Regions from separate parts of the Homo sapiens genome. Here regions 1, 2 and 3 are each reported to be linked to region 4. The links are microRNA targets in miRTarBase. Many come from high-throughput screens and were not tested one by one. Region 4 holds a microRNA gene; each other region holds the end of a gene's coding sequence.
Evidence for each region. The annotated mature microRNA hsa-miR-6744-5p reads UGGAUGACAGUGGAGGCCU and lies in region 4 at 3,235-3,253, shown strand. An mRNA with a match to its seed (bases 2 to 7 or 8) in the 3' UTR can be bound and repressed. Matches are read on the target gene's strand: a 7mer-m8 pairs with bases 2 to 8, a 7mer-A1 pairs with bases 2 to 7 and ends in A, and an 8mer does both.

Region 1 (5,068 bases), not on the chromosome of region 4:
TGGTGTGGTGCCAGCCATGCCCTTCCCCGCCTCACATGAGCACAGGGGTTTTTGCCCTGAGGTTTGGGTGAACACTCTGGGTGCCTCGGTTTCCCCCCTAGTCTGGCCCTCACCATCGGGCACTAAGCCGTGGTTTTCATATTGGTCCAGCTGGACGAGTGTGGGATTCCGGCAGCCGTGGGTTGCACGGAGACGGCAGGTAGTCTCTGCCTTCCAGGTTGGAGTCAGCAGTGCGAAGAAGCGTTCGTATTCGGTAGGAGAGAGAGGGCTGCCTGGAGTGGAGGCCTGAGTCGAATCCTGGGCTGCGGCAGGTGCCAGAGGCAGGAGCAGCACTGCGGAGCGGGCGAACGGATGATGGAAGGACCGAACCCCAAAACCCGCTCCGAGACCAGGACAGACAGACCCAGACTGGCAAATTAGGAACGGGGTGAGGGTTATCCCTGCTGACCAGGGCGGGGGGAGTCTAGAGACAGAGGCAAAGGTCCGGCCGCGGGCGGGGGGAGATGGGAGTATCCCAGGACCTAGGGAGCCGACCCAGCGCGACCACCATGAGGAAGCGATCCAGAAACCGTAAAAGCAGAGCTCTCGGGAGGGAGAGGACTAGCCCGGGGAGAGTCTGTTGGAGCAGGTGTAAACCTCTCACCCTTCAGGAGTGAGGGAAGGAAGCCAGCGGCTGGCTTCCTCATGGCCGGAGAAGATCCGCCCGCGTCCCGTGGACACAAGCCGCCTCTAACGGGCCAAGCCGCAGAGAGAGCCGCAGGCGCGGGGCGGGGCGCACGCGGGCACCGCCCACGCGTCACAAAGAGCGGGCCGGGGCGGGGCCTCGACAGCCGGGCTCTCAGGGCCCTAAAGTGGCCAGAGCCCATCCAGATGGTAGGAATGGCAAACAGCTACCTTCACTTAGCGTCTTTTTCTTTTTTTTTTGAGACGGAGTCCTACTCTGTCGCCCAGGCTGGAGTGCAGTGGTGCGATCTCGGCTCACTACAACCTCGGCGTCCCAGGTTCAAGTGATTCTCCTGCCTCAGCCTCCCGAGTAGCTGGGACTATAGGTGCACGCCACCACGCCCAGCTAATTTTTGTATTTTTAGTAGAGATGGTATTTCACCATGCTGGCCAGATGGTCTCGATCTCTTGACCTTGTGATCCGCCCACCTCGGCCTCCCAAAGTGCTGGGATTACAGGCGTGAGCCACCATGCCCGGCCTAATTTTTGTATTTTTAGTAGAGACTGGGTTTCACCATGTTGGCCAGGCTGGTCTTGAACTCCTGACTTCAAATGATCTGCCCACCTCGGCCTCCCAAAGTGCTGGGATTACAGGTGTGAGCCACCGTAGCCAGCCACTTAGCATCTTTACATGCACTACCTTACGTAATTGCCATAGGAATCCCATAAGGTAGATACACTATCATTCGTTTTACAGATGAGAAATCGGGGCTTAGGGAAGCAACTCGCCCAACAAACAGGTCGTGAGGTCTAGAGCTAAGCGCAGGCAGAGATAGAATGTGCAAAACCAAGTCAAGGCCTATCTGGGTAGGAACTAGACAGGGCGCCTCCATGAGCAAAATGGGTCCAAGGGGAAAACAAGAGGGTGGCTCAGTGGTCTACGAAAGTGGTTTCCAAGGGAGAATCGAGTAAGACAGTCCACTGAGGTATGGGAGGAGAACTTTTGCTTTTGTATCTGTTTTGTGTTTAAAATGAGAAATTCCAGCCTGGGCAACAGGGCGAAACCTCGTCTCTACAAAAAGTACAAAAAATTAGCCAAGCGTGGTGGCACGTGCCTGTAGTCCCAGTTTCTTGGGGGGCTGAGATGGGAGGATCGCTTGAGCCCATGAGGCCAAGGCTGCAGTGAGGTGCAATCGGGCCACTGCTCTCCAGCCTGGGTGACAAAGTGAGACCCTGTCCCCACCCAAAAGCAAAAGTAAAAAAGAAAAATAAAACAAGAAATTGTCTTGGGCCAGACTTGGTGGCTCACGCCTGTAATCCCAGCATTTGGGAAGTCAAGGCGGGTGGATTCCTTGAGCCCAGGAGTTCCAGACCAGCCTGGGCAACATGGCGAAACCCTGTCTCTACAAAAAATACAAAAATTGTCAGGTGTGGTGGTGTGCGCCTGTTGTCCCACTTACTACTTGGGGAGGCTGAGGTAGGAGGATCACCTGAGTCTTCAGAGGTCAAGGCTGCAGTGAGCTGAGATCTCACCACTGTGCTCCAGCCTGGGTGACAAAGTGAGACCCTGTCTCAAAAATAAAATAAAATAAAATAAATTAATAAAATAGAGACCAGGCACTGTGGCTCATTCCTGGAATTCCAGCACTTTGGGAGGCCAAGGAGGGTGGATCTCTTGAGGCCAGGAGTTTGAGACCAGCCTGGCCAAAATGGTGAAACTTGGCCGGTGCGATGGCTCATGCCTGTAATCCTAGCACTTTGGGAGACCAAGGCAGGCAGATCACGAGGTCAGGAGATCAAGACCATCCTAGCTAACACGGTGAAACCCTGTCTCTACTAAAAATACAAAAAATTAGCCAGGCGTGGTGGCATGTGCCTGTAGTCCCAGCTACTCGGGAGGCTGAGGCAGGAGAATTGCTTGAACTCGGGAGATGGAGGTTGCAGTGAGCCGAAATCACGCCACTGCACTCCAGCCTGCATGACAGAGTGAGACTCCATCTCAAAAAAAAAAAAAGGGTGAAACCCAGTCTCTACTAAAAATACAAAAATTATGGCTGGTCTCAGCACAGTGCAATCTCTGCCTCCTGGGTTCAAGTGATTCTCCTGCCTCAACCTCCCAAGTAGCTAGGATTATAGGCACATGCCACCACATCTGGCTAATTTTTGTATTTTTAGTAGAGATGGGGTTTTAACATGTTGGCCAGACTGGCCTCGAACTCCGGACCTCAGGTGATCCACCCACCTCAACCTCCCAGAGTGCTGGGATTACAGGTGTGAGCCACCGCACCCAGCCTATTTATTTTTTTGAGACGGAGTCTCACTCTATCGCCCAGGCTGGAGTGCAGTGGTACAATCTCAGCTCACTGCAACCTCTGCCTCCCAGGTTCAAGCGATTCTCCTGCCTCACCCTCTCGAGTAGCTGGGATTACAGGCACCCATGACCACGCCCAGCTAATTTTTGTATTTTTGGCCGAGACCGGGTTTCGCCATGTTGGCCAGGCTAGTCTTGAACTCCTGACCTCAGGTGATCCACCTCCCTTGGCCTCCCAAAGTGTTGGGATTACAGGCGTGAGCTACCGGGCCTGGCCTACTTTAAAAAAAATTTTAAAAAATGAAAAAAAGAAATCAGCTTGGGTGCTGTGGCTCACGCCTGTAATCCCAGCACTTTGGGAGGCCAAGGCAGGCAGATCATGAGGTCAAGAGATGGAGACCATCCTGGCCAACACGGTGAAACCCTGTCTCTACTAAAAATACAAAATTAGCTGGGCGTGGTAGCATGTGCCTGTAGTCCCAGCTACTTGTAAGACTGAGGCAGGAGAATCACTTGAACCCGGAGGCGGAGACTGCAGTGAGCCAAGATCACGCCACTGCACTCCAGCCTGGCAACAGAGTGAGACTTCGCCTCAAAGGAAAAAAAAAAAGAAGTCAAGCTAATGTATAGTATAGCAGTACGTATGTATAGCACAAATACATCATTTATTGGAAATTAAGTGAAAGATGTTTTATGGAGAAAAGATGCATGATTTACAAAGTTTTGGAGACCCCCTGGTCTGAGGCCTACCCTCCAGCACCTCTGTCTTTCCCAAGTTGAGAACTTACAAGTTCTCGGACAGAGGCACCACTCTGGTTTCATGTCGTGTCCTAATTCTGGCATGCCATCCTCTCACATTGCATCCAACCCAGAGGACGCAAAATGAATGCTCAGCATGTTTACTAAAACAGTGTCTCTACAATAAACACAGCAGGCCAACATGTATAGCTTTTATTTACCTACCCAAGTTCCTTTTACATGTGAGTTATCTGCATTCCACCTTGCCCCCTCTCCCAGGATGAATCCTCTTGGCACAGAGGAAGGGGTGCCCCTTCAACTAGGGCCAGAGCCTAGATGACCTGGTGGATCCCCCACCATGAAAAAAGCAGGAAGGGAATGGAGAAGAAAAGTGTTGATCACACCTAGCCCTCACCACAGGAGGGGGAATGAAGAGGTCTGGGGGACTGCCCCCATGCTATGCCCCAGTCCTTAAATACAAAGCAAGGAGAATGAAAAGGACCCTCCCTCTGAAATACAGCACCGACCTCAGCATGGAGGCAAAAGGACAGTGGGCAAGACCACGTCCCTCCGAAGGGAGAGGGCTGAAGGAGAGCACATACCGTTAGTGGCTGCGGCACCCCTCCCTACCAGGGTCTGATGCAGCCTCAGCACCGGGAGTGGGGAGAGGGGAGGAGAAGGGATGACAGCACTGTGCCATCCACTCCTCCCTGAACCCCTGGCCCCAGCACAGGCATTCCTCTGCCCACTAGCCCAAGTCAGGGGATGTGGAAGAAACTGTGTTGGAATCCAAGGCCCTTATCTATTTCTTCTTCCGTTCTTGGGAGCAGCGTGGGCAAAACCTGAAACAGAGAAGGGGAGAGAAAAGTGAGTGAAAGGGAGAATGCCCTTGACCACTCAACTTAGGGACCCTCCAACTCCTGCCACTTACCATTTCCCCCGAGGCTTGGTTGTCAGCCCCACACAGGCAAAATGGAACCACTCAATGGAACACTGGAAGAGGAAGAAAGAAGTAGTCAGGGGCCAGGAAGGGCCAGAGGAAGGAGAGAAAGCCCCTCCAGATTCCTTAGGAACATCCTGTCCTTTACTCCATCCTTTTGGAGAATTCTTGGAAGTCCCAAGGCCAACCAGTTCCCACCATCTTCCTTCTATTCTTTTTTTCTTTTTGAGGCAGAGTCTCACTCTGTTGCCCAGGCTGGAATGCAATGACATGATCTCAGCTCACTGCAACCCCCGCCTCCCGAGTTCAAGCTATTCTCCTGCCTCAGCCTCCCAAGCAGCTGAGATTACAGGCACAGGCTATCATGCCTGGCTAATTTTTGTATTTTTAGTGGAGACGGGGTTTCACCGTGTTGG
Region 2 (5,068 bases), not on the chromosome of region 4:
GCCGAGATCATGCCACCACACTCCAGCCTGGTCCACAGAGCGAGACTCTGTGTCAAACAAACAAACAAACAAGCAACAGAGGAAGACATGTGCTGACCGGCAGCCCCCTTTGTCTCTCTCTTCCCAACAGGGGCCAACTCCAGCTTGACCGGCAGCGGGGGGCCGCTGTTATGGGAGACTCAGCTGGGCCTGGCCTTCCTGAGGGGCCTCAGCTACCACGATGGGGCCCTTGTGGTCACCAAAGCTGGCTACTACTACATCTACTCCAAGGTGCAGCTGGGCGGTGTGGGCTGCCCGCTGGGCCTGGCCAGCACCATCACCCACGGCCTCTACAAGCGCACACCCCGCTACCCCGAGGAGCTGGAGCTGTTGGTCAGCCAGCAGTCACCCTGCGGACGGGCCACCAGCAGCTCCCGGGTCTGGTGGGACAGCAGCTTCCTGGGTGGTGTGGTACACCTGGAGGCTGGGGAGAAGGTGGTCGTCCGTGTGCTGGATGAACGCCTGGTTCGACTGCGTGATGGTACCCGGTCTTACTTCGGGGCTTTCATGGTGTGAAGGAAGGAGCGTGGTGCATTGGACATGGGTCTGACACGTGGAGAACTCAGAGGGTGCCTCAGGGGAAAGAAAACTCACGAAGCAGAGGCTGGGCGTGGTGGCTCTCGCCTGTAATCCCAGCACTTTGGGAGGCCAAGGCAGGCGGATCACCTGAGGTCAGGAGTTCGAGACCAGCCTGGCTAACATGGCAAAACCCCATCTCTACTAAAAATACAAAAATTAGCCGGACGTGGTGGTGCCTGCCTGTAATCCAGCTACTCAGGAGGCTGAGGCAGGATAATTTTGCTTAAACCCGGGAGGCGGAGGTTGCAGTGAGCCGAGATCACACCACTGCACTCCAACCTGGGAAACGCAGTGAGACTGTGCCTCAAAAAAAAGAAAGGAAGAAAAAAGAAAACTCAGGAAACAGATCTTGGGGGACACTCCAGGGAACCCAAAACTCAAAGGCGGAGAGCTCAGTGGGCACCACCAAGGCGAGATGAAGCCCCAGCAGGCACCTTCAGAAGACCCACGTAGACTGCAGACCCTGCCACGGACAATACTAAGGACAAAAACCCAGAGACTTGGGGTCTGTGGGCCCCCAAACATGGGGTAAAGTTGATTTGCCTGATATTCAGGAAGAAGGGGTGAGGGGTGGGTATTTATGCTTTTGATTCAGAAGAAAGTGGGGCTTGGGATTCCAGGGACTTGGCTGGGGGTGGGAAACTTCATCCACTTCCCTACTCTCATCATGAGTACGGACAGGGTGGGCGGGAGACTGATCATCGGGACTCATCATGAAGAGCCCAGCCCCACCCCACATACTCAGATCCCACCCACAGACTGGTGGCCACACCTCAGCCTGGTCACAAAGAGTTACACTCAGATACATGAGCACGGCAGCGTGCTCATAACTGTTTAACAACCAGCTGTCCTGGGAGGGGGACAGCTTTGTAATGTTTGCCAATTTCCATGGTGTAAATGCTACCACCATGGCTGATTTCATCACTGCCAAGCATAGACATCCCTAATAGGACACCACGGATCTGTCCCCGGCATCCGGCCCAGGGCCTGGCACAAAGCATGCTCTAGGGAAATGCTTGCTGATTGAAAGGAAGGAAGAATGACTCTACAGTCACACCTATGGCATCCCACAAAATCTGTCACATGGCTGCATAATCTCAGCCACTCTTTCACAACTATAGACTCATACACGCGAAGTGCCAGATTCATGCACAACCACACAATCACATGGAAGTCACAGACGGCATCACAGACAGTCACAGCACTGTGTGTATGTTATAACACAAGCACACAAAACTCAGACAGCATCCCAGCTACACAGCCACTCCCAGAGGTGTCACCGTCACACTTGGTAATTAATACTCATTACATTAGACACAGACAGACCAAGTTATAGTCAGACCTGGTTACACACATACACACACACAATATCACCATGACAAATACACATTACACACACACAACATCACAATGACAAACACACATTACACACACAACATCACGATGACAAACACACATTACACACACAACATCACGATGACAAACACACATTACACACACATCACAATGACAAACACAACATTACACACACACAACATCACAATGACACACACATCACACACACATCACAATGACAAACACACAACATTACACACATATACACACAGCCTGAGGGCCCTCCCCAGCCCAGACTAACACATCTCGGGGTGAGGACCAGACCTTGTTCATAACCCTGGGCCTCTTAACCACTGATCTTTGAAATAAATGGCAAATAGTTGTACCTGGATCTGTCTAGTTCTTAGGGGAACAAACTGAAGAAGGGTGGAGAGGAATTGTCAGGCCTAAAGAGCCCCACAGGGAAAGGGAGGAGTCGGATGGGGGGCAACCATCAGCAACAAGTGGTGGCTCCTAGAGGCAGAGGGATGGAGGTAATGACCCATGGAGGTCATTCTACAGATGAGGAACCTGGACCCAGTTGGCTCAAGTCCATGCAGGAAATGTGGGGGAAACCAGAGACCTCACGTCTGGATCTGGCTTCCTCTCCAATCCACAATTCCTGAGGAAGTAGAGGCTACATCCCGCAAGACGCCCTTATTAGACACATCCAGGACAGAATGACAATCCGCCAAGCCAGCTGGAAGCATAAAACACAGGGAGCTGGTGGGTTGGGTGGGGGCAGATAATGATATGCATACAAATTAGAGGGTCTATGCAAATGAGCATTGCTGCAGTGTGGCTGGAGGGAATCCTTAGTTCCTAGGATTCTAGGATATGGGTTTCGACCCCAGAGGTGAATGTATTGTTATTATTGTTTTGTTGTTGTTGTGAATGACAAGTCAAAATTTGTGGGTTATTGTTGTTATCGCCAATAGTATTCTTGTCATTGTTGCACAGTACAGAGATGAAGGAAACAGATTTTGCAATCAGATGATCCTGGGTTCTGAGTCCACTCTGCCACTCACCAGCTATATGACCTCCAGCAATTTCCATCACCTCTCAATGCTTCAGTTTCCCCATCGGCAAGATGGTTGTGGGGGGAGAGGAACAACAGTACAGATTCACCATCCCAAATTCAAAATGCTCCAAAATCTAGGCCGGGCGTGGTGGCTCATACCTGTAATCCCAGCACTTTGGGAGGTCAAAGTGGACGGATAACCTGAGGTCAGGAGCTCCAGACCAGCCTGGCCAACATGGCGAAACCCCATCTCTACTAAAAATACAAAAAATTACCTGGGTGTGGTGGGGGGCACCTGTAACCCCAGCTACTCGGGAGGCTGAGGCAGGAACCCTGGAGGTTGAGGTTGCAGTGAGCTGAGATCACACCACTGCACTCCAGCCTGGGTGACAGAGCAAGGCTCCCATCTCAAAAAACAAAAAAACATGCTCCAAAATCTGAAACTCTTTGAGCCCCAGTGTGATGCCACAAGTGGGAAATTCCACAACTCATCACATGTGATAGATTGCAGTGGAAATGCAGGCACACACCACGAAGTTTACTCAGCATCCTCAAAGGAAATCCCCGTCAGTAGCTATATATCATTTTCTCACATGCCAGATAGGTATCTCTCATCTTTTACTGTTAGGTACTTCTGTGTTGAATAGGTGGAGGAAAATGATTGCTGGTTAGTAGTATATAAATTCAGAGTCAGGAAGGATGGTGATGTCGGCTGGGTGCAGTGGCTCATGCCTGTAATTCCAATGTGATACCCTACCTTGTGTTTAACGTGATTGACTCTCCCTTAGCTGAGAGGGCCAGGCAGACTCTATTTTGGCTTCTTCGCTTGCAGTCTCTCACCCACCCCCCTTCCTCAAGGACTTAAGCTGACTCCCAGCACATCCAAGAATGCGATTACTGATAAGATACTGTGACAAGCTATATCCACAATTCCCAGGAATTCGTCCGGTTGATAGCACCCAAAGCCCCCGCGTCTATCACCTTGTGATAGATTTAAAGCCCCTGCACCTGGAACTGTTTGTTTTTCTGTTACCATTTATCTTTTTCACTTTCTTGCCTGTTTTGCTTCTGTAAAATTGCTTCAGCTCGGCTCCCTCTTCCCCTTCTAAACCAAGGTATAAAAAGAAACCTAGCCCCTTCTTTGGGGTGGAGAGAATTTTGAGCGCTAGCCGTCTCTCAGTCGCCGGCTAATAAAGGACTCCTGAATTAGTCTAAGAGTGTGGCATTTCTCTATAACTCACTCAGTTACAACATTTGGAGGCCACAGCGAGATCCGCCACCGGGTGAAATCTGGACCCGTTCCGGGCTCCCCTGGACAGACGGCGAGCTTATAGGGGAGGCGCCACCTAAAGACGTTCCAGGGACGTGTAGGCCACCGTCTTCCAGAGGGGAACGGATCGGCTGCCGGTGTCCTCAACCAAATTCAACTCCTGAGTCCTCAGTGTCTGGTCCCGGGAAGGTAAGTCAGATTTGACTCTGTTTCTCTGGGAGGGAGGTGGCCCTGATGAGGGCGTCCCTCTGACTCTGTCCATATTCCAGGACGCTGGAGGACAGAGTCCTGGTTTCTGTCTGACTCTGTTTCTCTGGGAGGGAAGCGGCTCTGATGAGGGCATCCCTCTGACTCTGTCCAAATTCCAGGATGCTGGAGGACAGAGTCCTGGTTTCTGTCAGGCATCTCTGTAAGACTAGTCTCTTTCTTTCTCTCTCTCTCTATCTCTTCTCCTCTCGTTGAGGTCTCAAGGAGACCTCTGTTTTAAAACGGGTATTGAAGAATTGTAATAAACTCTGTGTGAGTGAGTGAGTGAATGTGGAGGTCAAGGGCTCGCGCTTGAATTTTCAGTTTGTAGCTCCACGGCAAAAGCTACAGAGTTCGAGTGGGCCCTCACCTGTGGTTCCGTGGTGACCTCATAAGGCTTAGGGCAGCATTGAGCATAGCTGGATCTGAACGGGCGTTTATACCGGCCTGCCAAAGCTAAGAGGAGCCTGAGTCCTCACAAGGGGAGTGGCCAGGCGGGCATCTGACTGATCCCATCACGGGACCCCCACCCCTTGTCT
Region 3 (5,068 bases), not on the chromosome of region 4:
CAGCATTAAACCCTTGAGACTACTCTCAGATGACTCTTTCTTTCCTAAACTGGTATTCTGTCAGCAGTTTGGGAGGAGCCAAAGTGAGCTCAGCAATAAAGAAACATTGCTTCTGTGTATTGTGAGCACTCTTTAGAGGGGCCTGTTTCCAGAAAGTACACTCCTTGGTTAGCCCACCATGGAGGTGGAACTAAAAGAGAACATAGTTTGAGGGACATTGGATAACAAGGGCTGTTTCCCTTGGTTCTGAGGTAATAGACCTCCACATGCTTGAATTGCAAGGATTAAAGGATCATGGTACTGGTAAATTTAAGAAACCTTAAAATGTCTCCCTTGGTACTCCAGCACTGGTTATTTACTCTTCACATTTCATGAACCAGGTAGAGATGAGGTGCAGCTGAGCACTGGGGAAACTAACTGAGTTCTTGTTTCTGTGTTACAGGCTTTCCTCGGAGACGGGTGGCATGGGGAGCAGCTAGAACAATGCAGATTCATCCATAATCCCTTTCTGCTGTTCACCACCACCCATGATCCATCTGTGTAGTTTCTGAACAGTCAGCGATTCCAGGTTTTAAATAGTTTGTAAATTTTCAGTTTCTACACACTTTATCATCCACTCGTGATTTTTTAATTAAAGCGTTTTAATTCCTTTCTCTGTTCAGCTGTTGATGCTGAGATCCATATTTAGTTTTATAAGCTTCTCCCTGGTTTTTTTTTTTTGGCTCATGAATTTTTCTGTTTGTCATGGAAATGTAAGAGTGGAATATTAATACATTTCAGTTTAGTTCTGTAATGTCAGGAATTTTTCAAAAAAATTAAAAGATGGACTGGAGCTTTTTCTTTGTGAATAGAAACTGGATGCCACAGTGATTCATGTGGGTTTTATTCCTCTTGTCTTGCTGTTATTTTTGTACCTTTTATCCCTCAAAGGACCCTTCTTGGGTTTTGAATGGAAGCCTTTATTCCGGTTAAGATGTTTTCTTCTATTTTACCACTTCCATCTTTTTTTGTGGCCCTCGATCCTATTTTTCCCTGACTCCATGCTTGGTTGGCCCTTATAAAACTTGTGCCCAAAAGATTGAGGATTAGACTTTCCGAGGACTTACCTGTCCTAGGGGAGTAGGCAAGCACTTCCACTAGGGAGGGGGTGGGGGAAAGGAATGACACATGACATACATGGCATACACATTAAGCAGTTGATCATATGTCTGACTGGGTTCCAGTTTCTTGGGAATGTTGGTCCCCTTGTTCAGGCTTGCATATTTTAAACTAAAAATTTCAGTCTATTGTTTTTAGTAACTTCATTTATAGTCCTCCATAACAAGTTAGAAGGATGTATCTGCTACCATTTATTCCTATAATTTTAGAAAGTTGGGGCTTGACATTATACTCATTTAGTGAGAGTAGATGCAAAAAAGTGGAGGGGCAGGAGAACTTCTCCAGACACCTCAGATAAAGTCCGGAGCCCAAGGCTTTATCTTAACCATGTATGGTACCCCATTCATTCATCAAGAAAACCCTCAACAGCTGGGCCTGCATGGAGTGTTATATTTCAAGGTTTTTCACAGGGGTTACAGTAGGACAGTCCCCACCCCAATCAGGCACCAGGATAAAAGCAGGGACTTAAACAGCACCCCGGTTCTTCAGCCTGAGCCATCACATGCTATCAGTCTCCTAACCTCCCCCTGGGCCTTAAGACAGGGCTTGGGCAGAGAAGATAAATGGTGGGACAAAAAAATGAGTTACATTGCCACCTGAGAAACCTCAGAGGGGAGGACCCAGCCTTAGCCTCCCTCCTCCCAAGTGCAAAATGTGTAAACAGAGTAAACGGAACAGAAAAGTGCAGTCTAAGTGGTTTTCTCTCCTGCCCCTCCCACCGCCCCTCCCCCCACCCCCTATTATTTGGGGATAAAGAATATAAAGACAACCCTGGCTTTTCTATTGCCTTGTTGCTTGCTGAATATAAGGAATGGGGTGGGGCAGGAAGGGGCTTGCCCTTAGCCACAGCTCTACGGCTGTGCCTCATTCATTTCCACAGCTGCCAGTGTCCCTAGAGTTTATCAGGTGAATTGGTCAGGGGATCAGTCTCCCTCGAGCCTGACTTACGGCTGGGACAGCCCCATCTTTCTGTTGATTATGTGGCGCATATATATATATATATGTATATATATATAATTTATATAAATATTTCTCTATGTACAAGGAATACGAGTGGCTTTCATGGAGGGAGGGAAGCTGGGGGCCGCAAGGCATCAACGCTGTTGGAGTTGTCCAATTCAGTGCTGTCACAGTCTGAGTCCTCAGAATTGGGAGGGCCCTGTGAGAAAGAGTAGAAATGGAGTGAGATTCCTTGGGGTTCTTTGCTGGGGTCATTTTAATAGCCAGTGGCTTACTGATTTGTTTTTTAAGACAGAGTCTCACTCTCGCCCAGGCTGGAGTGCAGTAGCACAATCTCGGCTCACTGCAACCTCTGCCTCCCAGGTTCAAGCAATTCTTCTGCCTCAGCCTTCTGAGTAGCTGGGACTACAGGCATGCACCACCACGCCCAGCTAATTTTTGTACTTTTAATAGAGATGGGGTTTTACCATATTGGTCAGGCTGGTCTTGAACTCCTGACCTTGTGATCCACCCGCCTCGGCCTCCCAAAGTTCTGGGATTCCAGGCGTGAGTCACCATGCCCAGCCAGCTTACTGGTTTTATTCCTTCCAGATTTCAGTTGCTCAGGCCATTCTCCAAGGTGTCAGACTCCTTTCAGAATCATTCCCTGGCTGCAATTTATAGCTACATGCAAGCTACTGGTCAGGCATCGTAATAGATGCTCTGTGCAAGAGGCTTCTGAAATTCCACCACGTGGATATTTGCTCTTTATGGTACTTTCTGGCCTGTGCAGCTGTCTCCCCAAAAGCTGTTAAAAGACAAGGCATCTGCTTACAGCTCTCCCTGTTCAATATCTGCTTTTTGCTGTTGTGCCACTCACCCGCTCTCTGAGAAGTTCCTGGTGTGGAATGGGCAGGGAGCTGGGTTCAGGGCCAGGGATGACCTCTGAAGGAGGTGGGTCCAGTGGGATTTCTGAGCCCTGGGAGCACATGTCATCAGACCGCTCATCTGGCCGCTCATCAGTGTTGGTGCTGCCAACTTCAGGTGTGCCACTGGGGGAAGGTTCACTAGCTGTGCCTTCCTCCCCATCTGATGGATTCTCTGAGCTGAAGGTAGATAGTGACTGGCGCATGTTCAGGCTCTGAGGCCACCTACATGTTGAAGAGGGGGATTACAGCTTGGTTCTGCCCCTAGCAGAAAACAAGAATGCCATTAATTCTTGTAATGCCATCACTTACCTCTGGCTTGATGTCAGCTCTACTTCACTGTCTACCTCTCCTTCCTCCTCTTCCGATGAGATGCCACGTTTCTGCAGGAGAGATGGGGTGGGGGGGGTCTGATTAGAAGTGGAAAGAGGTCACTAAGAATCCAGGAGAAGGGAACATAGTTACGAAGGGTGAAGTAGGGAATGGCTTAAAATTGAGCATAATGTGGGGGATTAGACTTGGACCCCAGGGAGGATAAGGAAAAAGGGAAAGAGCTTGGGAGCCTTCCCATACTTTACCTGACTTCGGGTGACGGCAGCCCTGTACAGCAGTGCAGCTGGGGTCAAGTGCTGGGACCCAGCCCGGCTTCCTCCCCGGCCTGAGGTCCCTTCCCTTCCAGTTCCCAGAAGCCCCACACCTTCACCAGGCCCTACTGGAGGAGGTGGTTCCCCTTTGGCTCCCCCAGGTGAATCTGGGCTGGTGGAGCCAGGGGCTGAGCCCTCACTTGGTGGGGTGTCACCCCGGGCCGGAGGTGGTGAGCCAGGATCCCCAGCTCCGCCTGTGGCCCCCCGGCCCCGGGACCCTAGTGCTGCTGACAGCAGGTCTGGGGACGATGAAGACATTTTGCGGAGCAGGAGGTCATGATGAAGCCCACGGAGGGCGGGAGGGCAGGCCTCCCAGGCTGAGGGTCCCCCTCCTAGGCCCCCTGGGCTTCCTGGTCCTCCAGGTTCATGGGGTGGCACAGCTGTACGAAGCCCAGGCAGGTCCCCACAGCTCCCCTTGGCGCTGGCCTTGCGGTGACGGGTCTTGCCACGGCGACTCCGTCCTGGTGAGGGGGGGCCCTTAGGACACCCAGGAAGCCCCACCCCACTCAGGGCTGCATCTAGTTTAGGGAGCAAAGACTCCGTCTTGAGGATATCTGGCCTGGAAGAAGAGGAAAAGTAAAAGGTTAAGACTGCCAAATCTATGTACTCAAAGCACTCCCTAACCTTGGACACTAAAGTACACATCTCCCTGCTAATATACCTGTTGCCACTTCAGTATCCCTCTTGCCATATTGGAACCACAGTACTCATGTCCCACCTTTTGCTATGGGGTGACAGCTTCTGTGGCACATTCCTCTTCTTGATAAGCTTCTCCATTGTGTTTCCATGCAGGAGGCCCCGGGAAGGGTGTGGCTTCAGCAGGCCTGGGCACCTCCGCTCTAAAGCTTGCTCTCGCCTAAAGATCCAGGCACCTTCTCAGCTGGGCAAATGACCAGGAAGGGGCACCCCAGTCTCAGTAGGACCTCTAAGGCAGGCACAGCTCCAGGGCTTGGTGCATAAGGACAGGTAGGGTTACCTGAGCAGCTCCCTCTCCTTGAGTTCCAGCTGCAACATGAGGGCATTAAGTTCCATATACAGGTTGTTGGCTCTCTCCAGCTTCCTTTCATAGTGCTCCCTGATGTCCAGGGCGTGTCTGCAACGGGCAGAAAGGTTCCCCAAGGTGAACTGGGTTCACCTAGGGCCATAACAGATCTCAGTCTCAGAATTCCTGTCCACAGTCCTTTCGTAGTCCTTCCACCCGCCCTGGGGCTGGGTAGGAGCTGACTGGGTGCATAGTCCTTGCTGTTAGTAAAATCACCTCCCCAAGCACGGGAACTCACCTGAGCTCCTCCCTCCTCCTCATCACCAGTTCCTCTTCTAGGCGGTGCAGACAGGTCCCTTCTGACTTAATCTTTTCAAAGTGCAGTTTTACTTCTTCCCGCCACTCTGCCTATGGGTTGA
Region 4 (5,070 bases):
GCTTCTGGGGCCAGGAGAAGCTCAGGATGGAAGCGGGAGCCCAGAGGAGCTTTTGTCTCCTGGGTCCTAACAGCGGCTTCCATCACCGTGCGGGACCCACCGCTAAGAGGTCACGGCGTTCTCACTCCTCCCCATGTCCTTGGCCCAGGGCTGCTGTTCCAAACCGCCACAAGCTGGGGAGCTTATACAACAGAAACCCACTCTCCGTCCTGGAGCTGGAAGTCTGAGATCCAGGCGGGCAGGGGATAGACTCCCTGCTGAGGGTCTGGGGAGGTCCTTCCTGCCTCTCCCAGCTTTGGGGACTCCAGGTGTCCTTTGGCTGTGGCTGCATCCCTCCGATCTCTGCCTCTGCCTCTCTGTGGCCTCCCCTCTCTGTGTCTGTGTCTCTTCTGTCTCCCGTAAGGACACTGGTCATTGGATTGAGGGCCCACCCAGCTAGTCCACGATGATGTCATTTCAAGATGCTTCCCTTAATCCCATCTGCAAAGACACTTTCTCCCGGCAAAGCCACATGCGGAGGTTCTGGGATAGCCATAGATTTTGGGGGACCCCATTCTACACACTGGACCCATTTTTATAGACGAGGCAGCTGAGGCCCCAGGGGCTTCAGTGGCTCCCCAAGGCGGCAGTCACAGTGGTGACGCTGGCTGCCATGACGCCTGGGGAGCGAGGGCACCACCACGGAGCCTGCCAGCCCGTCCATCTCTGTCCCGCAGGCATCTGCAGCATGTGGGGCGGCTCCCACTATTCCACCTTTGACGGCACCTCTTACACCTTCCGGGGCAACTGCACCTATGTCCTCATGAGAGAGATCCATGCACGCTTTGGGAATCTCAGCCTCTACCTGGACAACCACTACTGCACGGCCTCTGCCACTGCCGCTGCCGCCCGCTGCCCCCGCGCCCTCAGCATCCACTACAAGTCCATGGATATCGTCCTCACTGTCACCATGGTGCATGGGAAGGAGGAGGGCCTGGTGAGTCCAGGCTGCGGGTGGCACAGTGTTGGCCCAGTCCCAACCGCACCTGGGCAGGCCGACTGCAGGCCGGGGTGACCCAGGTGCCGCAGCGATGGCCCAGTGCCCAAGACAGCTCCCAGGGGGCAGGGAAGGCCTGTGGAGCCGCCTAAGGCCGAGCGCACCCTGTGGCCTAAATGCAGCCAGCTGGAGACTCCAGGCCCCCAGGGAAGATCTGGGCTTTGGGGTGGGGGATACACAGGGGGGTCTCTGCACATGGAGGCAGAGCCCCAAAGAGAAGCCCTGCTCCCCGAGCCCACCTGGCACTGCCTCCCAGCTCAGGGTTCCCCTGGATTCCCCCAGATCCTGTTTGACCAAATTCCGGTGAGCAGCGGTTTCAGCAAGAACGGCGTGCTTGTGTCTGTGCTGGGGACCACCACCATGCGTGTGGACATTCCTGCCCTGGGCGTGAGCGTCACCTTCAATGGCCAAGTCTTCCAGGCCCGGCTGCCCTACAGCCTCTTCCACAACAACACCGAGGGCCAGTGCGGTGAGTGGGCGGCGGGTCCTGCCCCGGCCAGGGCTGCTGCTGGGCCTGACAACCCAGTGAGCATAGGGGAAGCCTGGGGAGGGGAATGAGTGGGGGAGGGGGGTGGGGGCTGTGAAAGGCTCCCCAGATTCCAGCCCCGCGGTGACGCCCCCACTCCCAGGCACCTGCACCAACAACCAGAGGGACGACTGTCTCCAGCGGGACGGAACCACTGCCGCCAGTTGCAAGGACATGGCCAAGACGTGGCTGGTCCCCGACAGCAGAAAGGATGGCTGCTGGGCCCCGACTGGCACACCCCCCACTGCCAGCCCCGCAGCCCCGGTGTCTAGCACACCCACCCCCACCCCATGCCCACCACAGCCGCTCTGTGATCTGATGCTGAGCCAGTGAGTCCTCCCCTCGGGGGTTGCAGGCCCTGGGGCGCCCCCGCCCGCCCGCATGCACGCACGCACGCAGCTCCCTGGGGCTGGGGGCCCTCCGTCCTGATCGCTTTGCCCCACAGGGTCTTTGCTGAGTGCCACAACCTTGTGCCCCCGGGCCCATTCTTCAACGCCTGCATCAGCGACCACTGCAGGGGCCGCCTTGAGGTGCCCTGCCAGAGCCTGGAGGCTTACGCAGAGCTCTGCCGCGCCCGGGGAGTGTGCAGTGACTGGCGAGGTGCAACCGGTGGCCTGTGCGGTGAGTGGGGGCGGCCCCGGGCCCCCCAGACCCCTCGGCCTCTCTGAGTGTCCTGTGCGGTGAGTGGGGGCGGCCCCGGGCCCCCCAGACCCCTCGGCCTCTCTGAGTGTCCTGTGCGGTGAGTGGGGGCGGCCCCGGGCCCCCCAGACCCCTCGGCCTCTCTGAGTGTCCTGTGCGGTGAGTGGGGGCGGCCCCGGGCCCCCCAGACCCCTCGGCCTCTCTGAGTGTCCTGTGCGGTGAGTGGGGGCGGCCCCGGGCCCCCCAGACCCCTCGGCCTCTCTGAGTGTCCTGTGCGGTGAGTGGGGGCGGCCCCGGGCCCCCCAGACCCCTCGGCCTCTCTGAGTGTCCTGTGCGGTGAGTGGGGGCGGCCCCGGGCCCCCCAGACCCCTCGGCCTCTCTGAGTGTCCTGTGCGGTGAGTGGGGGCGGCCCCGGGCCCCCCAGACCCCTCGGCCTCTCTGAGTGTCCTGTGCGGTGAGTGGGGGCGGCCCCGGGCCCCCCAGACTCCTCGGCCTCTCTGAGTGTCCTGTGCGGTGATTGGGGGCGGCCCTGGGCCCCCCCAACCCCTTGGCTTGTCTGACACCTCTCTGTGCCCACAGACCTCACCTGCCCACCCACCAAAGTGTACAAGCCATGCGGCCCCATACAGCCTGCCACCTGCAACTCTAGGTAAGTACAGGGATGGCTGGTGCCTTCCCTGCCACCCAGGCCTGCCTGACCGGTCTGGGGGAGCAGGAGGAGGCCAGAGGGTGTCCCACTGTGGGCCACAGATCTCTGGGGTGCCCGAGCCCAGGACTCCTTGGAAAACATCCCCTGCTGCTCCCAGATGCCTTAGAGACAGAGTCAGGCAGGGGGCGCATCCCTGGCCACGCCTGGCCCCGCATCCCCACCTGGCCCCGCCACCGAGCCCCACCCATCCCCGCCCATACTTAGCCCCGCCCACCCCCACCCCAGCCCCACCCGTCCCCGCCCCCAGCCCCGCCCACCCTGAGCCCCGCACTCCACCCATTCATCTCCTTCCCTGCTCCCCACTGCCCATCCTGGGGACTCACGTGGATGACAGTGGAGGCCTCCTGGATCTCTAGGTCTCAGGGCCTCTCTTGTCATCCTGCAGGAACCAGAGCCCACAGCTGGAGGGGATGGCGGAGGGCTGCTTCTGCCCTGAGGACCAGATCCTCTTCAACGCACACATGGGCATCTGCGTGCAGGCCTGCCGTAAGCTCCGCCACCTGTGGCGGGATACGACCCTGGGCCCGACCCAAGCACACACAGGGTGGGAGGAGCCGCCCAGGACCATGATGTGCTCTCCCCTCTCCCCAGCTGACCCCCGTGACCTGTTCTGCCCCACCAGAGCATGGGATGGCCCCAGAGTGGCCCTGAACCCTGCAGAGCCCCCACGGTCCCCTGAAGCCCCACAGGGAGGCTCTGTCCTTGAGTGATCCTGTGATGGTCCCTCCCCTGAGCCCTGCCTCCCACCACCATGGACGAGGCTTCCATGCACTGACAGCTGGGCTCACGGTGCCCTGGCCTGAGCTCCAGCCACATCTGACACCCCAAAAGTTCTCCAGGGCCTTCCATCCCGGGGGGAAGCAGGCTCCAGGCCTGAGAGCACCTCCCATGGCCAGAGGCCCCTCCGCCTGCAAACTCAGCACCCTCCGTGATGCCATGCTGTTTTCTTTCCAGCCTGCGTGGGACCCGATGGGTTTCCTAAATTTGTGAGTGGCTCCACCCCCACCTGCCCTACCCCACCCTCTCGCGAGCTGAGGGAGGGAGGGAAGGAGCATCCCCATCCCACAGGGCAGCTGTGGGGCGCCCGAGTGTGACGTGGACGTGCCAGTGGCTGGTGTGCGCTTCCTGCCCCATCACTCTGGGCCACTCGGGTACCAGCCCGAGGGAGGGGGTGGCTGGACAGATGCCCAGGGTTGACCTGTGTCTGTCCAGGAGCCCTCAGGGACCCCCTTGATCCATTCCAGCCCGGGGAGCGGTGGGTCAGCAACTGCCAGTCCTGCGTGTGTGACGAGGGTTCAGTGTCGGTGCAGTGCAAGCCCCTGCCCTGTGACGCCCAGGGTCAGCCCCCGCCGTGCAACCGTCCCGGCTTCGTAACCGTGACCAGGCCCCGGGCCGAGAACCCCTGCTGCCCCGAGACGGTGTGCGGTAAGACGCTGCAGAGCAGAGGTGCCCGGCATAGGGTGAGGGGGGACAGAGCCGGTGCCCACCAGGGGCCTGTGGGTTGGGCACAGGAGAGCAGAGGAGAGCCACTGTGTCCTGGCGTGACCGCGGCAGGACCACTCGGCAGAGATGGCCTCCAGGTGCTTCATTCTCCTCCTAACGATGAGGCTGGTGACCTCTGGCCTGCCCAGGAGTGGCCCAGGGACGTGGGAAGCAGCGGGGAGGTGGCCAAGCAAGGGGCCTGGAGGGAGCCCCCAGGGGCTGTGAAGCGGTCAGGTCCTCGGGGAAAAGCACGCCTGCGACTTACTCTGGGAACAAGTGGTCGGGAGGAGGAGTGAGCAGCGCCCAGACAGTGGCCTCCATCCTCCCGCAGTGTGCAACACAACCACCTGCCCCCAGAGCCTGCCTGTGTGCCCGCCAGGGCAGGAGTCCATCTGCACCCAGGAGGAGGGCGACTGCTGTCCCACCTTCCGCTGCAGTGAGCGGGGCTGGGGCCGGGCTCCTGGGTGGCCTCTTGCTGGGGGTGGGGGAGTGCAGGATGGTGGGGGCGCTGGAGCACATGCTCCCCACCACTTGTCGAGGGCTTAGCTCCCTTTCCTTCCAGGACCTCAGCTGTGTTCGTACAATGGCACCTTCTACGGGGTAAGGGCACAGCAGTGGGTGGGTGTGGCCCTGGGGCCTGAACATGTGTGTGGGATGCCCCGGGGCTCTCTGAGCCCC

Region 1: miRTarBase lists ING4 as a target of hsa-miR-6744-5p. Seed matches in the 3' UTR shown: 7mer-m8 at 4,393-4,399.
Region 2: miRTarBase lists TNFSF14 as a target of hsa-miR-6744-5p. Seed matches in the 3' UTR shown: 7mer-A1 at 1,263-1,269.
Region 3: miRTarBase lists PCBP2 as a target of hsa-miR-6744-5p. Seed matches in the 3' UTR shown: 7mer-A1 at 492-498 and 7mer-A1 at 610-616.

The regions. Positions count from the first base shown.
Region 1 is chr12:6,646,681-6,651,748 of GRCh38, forward strand. ING4 (inhibitor of growth family member 4) reads right to left here. Exons shown (of 8, transcript NM_016162.4): 7 at 4,644-4,705; 8 at 3,621-4,554. The coding sequence ends at 4,515. ACRBP (acrosin binding protein) reads right to left here and starts at 752. Exons shown (of 10, transcript NM_032489.3): 1 at 644-752; 2 at 114-332. The coding sequence starts at 686. RefSeq lists enhancers at 173-686, 610-679.
Region 2 is chr19:6,660,413-6,665,480 of GRCh38, reverse strand. It overlaps TNFSF14 (TNF superfamily member 14), which reads left to right. Exons shown (of 4, transcript NM_001376887.1): 4 at 131-4,228. The coding sequence ends at 555. Among named protein-coding and RNA genes, the nearest start is that of TNFSF14, 7.2 kb to the left of the region's middle.
Region 3 is chr12:53,478,964-53,484,031 of GRCh38, forward strand. It overlaps PCBP2 (poly(rC) binding protein 2), which reads left to right. Exons shown (of 15, transcript NM_031989.5): 15 at 443-2,199. The coding sequence ends at 479. It overlaps MAP3K12 (mitogen-activated protein kinase kinase kinase 12), which reads right to left. Exons shown (of 14, transcript NM_001193511.2): 8 at 4,948-5,057; 9 at 4,644-4,760; 10 at 4,386-4,523; 11 at 3,602-4,226; 12 at 3,336-3,406; 13 at 2,978-3,248; 14 at 706-2,317. The coding sequence ends at 2,219. Among named protein-coding and RNA genes, the nearest start is that of PCBP2-OT1, 17 kb to the left of the region's middle. RefSeq lists an enhancer at 3,392-3,905.
Region 4 is chr11:1,253,376-1,258,445 of GRCh38, forward strand. It overlaps MIR6744 (microRNA 6744), which reads left to right and starts at 3,230; the gene lies at 3,230-3,295. MUC5B (mucin 5B, oligomeric mucus/gel-forming) reads left to right here. Exons shown (of 49, transcript NM_002458.3): 34 at 717-976; 35 at 1,319-1,505; 36 at 1,666-1,891; 37 at 2,008-2,183; 38 at 2,781-2,850; 39 at 3,296-3,396; 40 at 3,865-3,896; 41 at 4,155-4,335; 42 at 4,724-4,828; 43 at 4,955-4,992.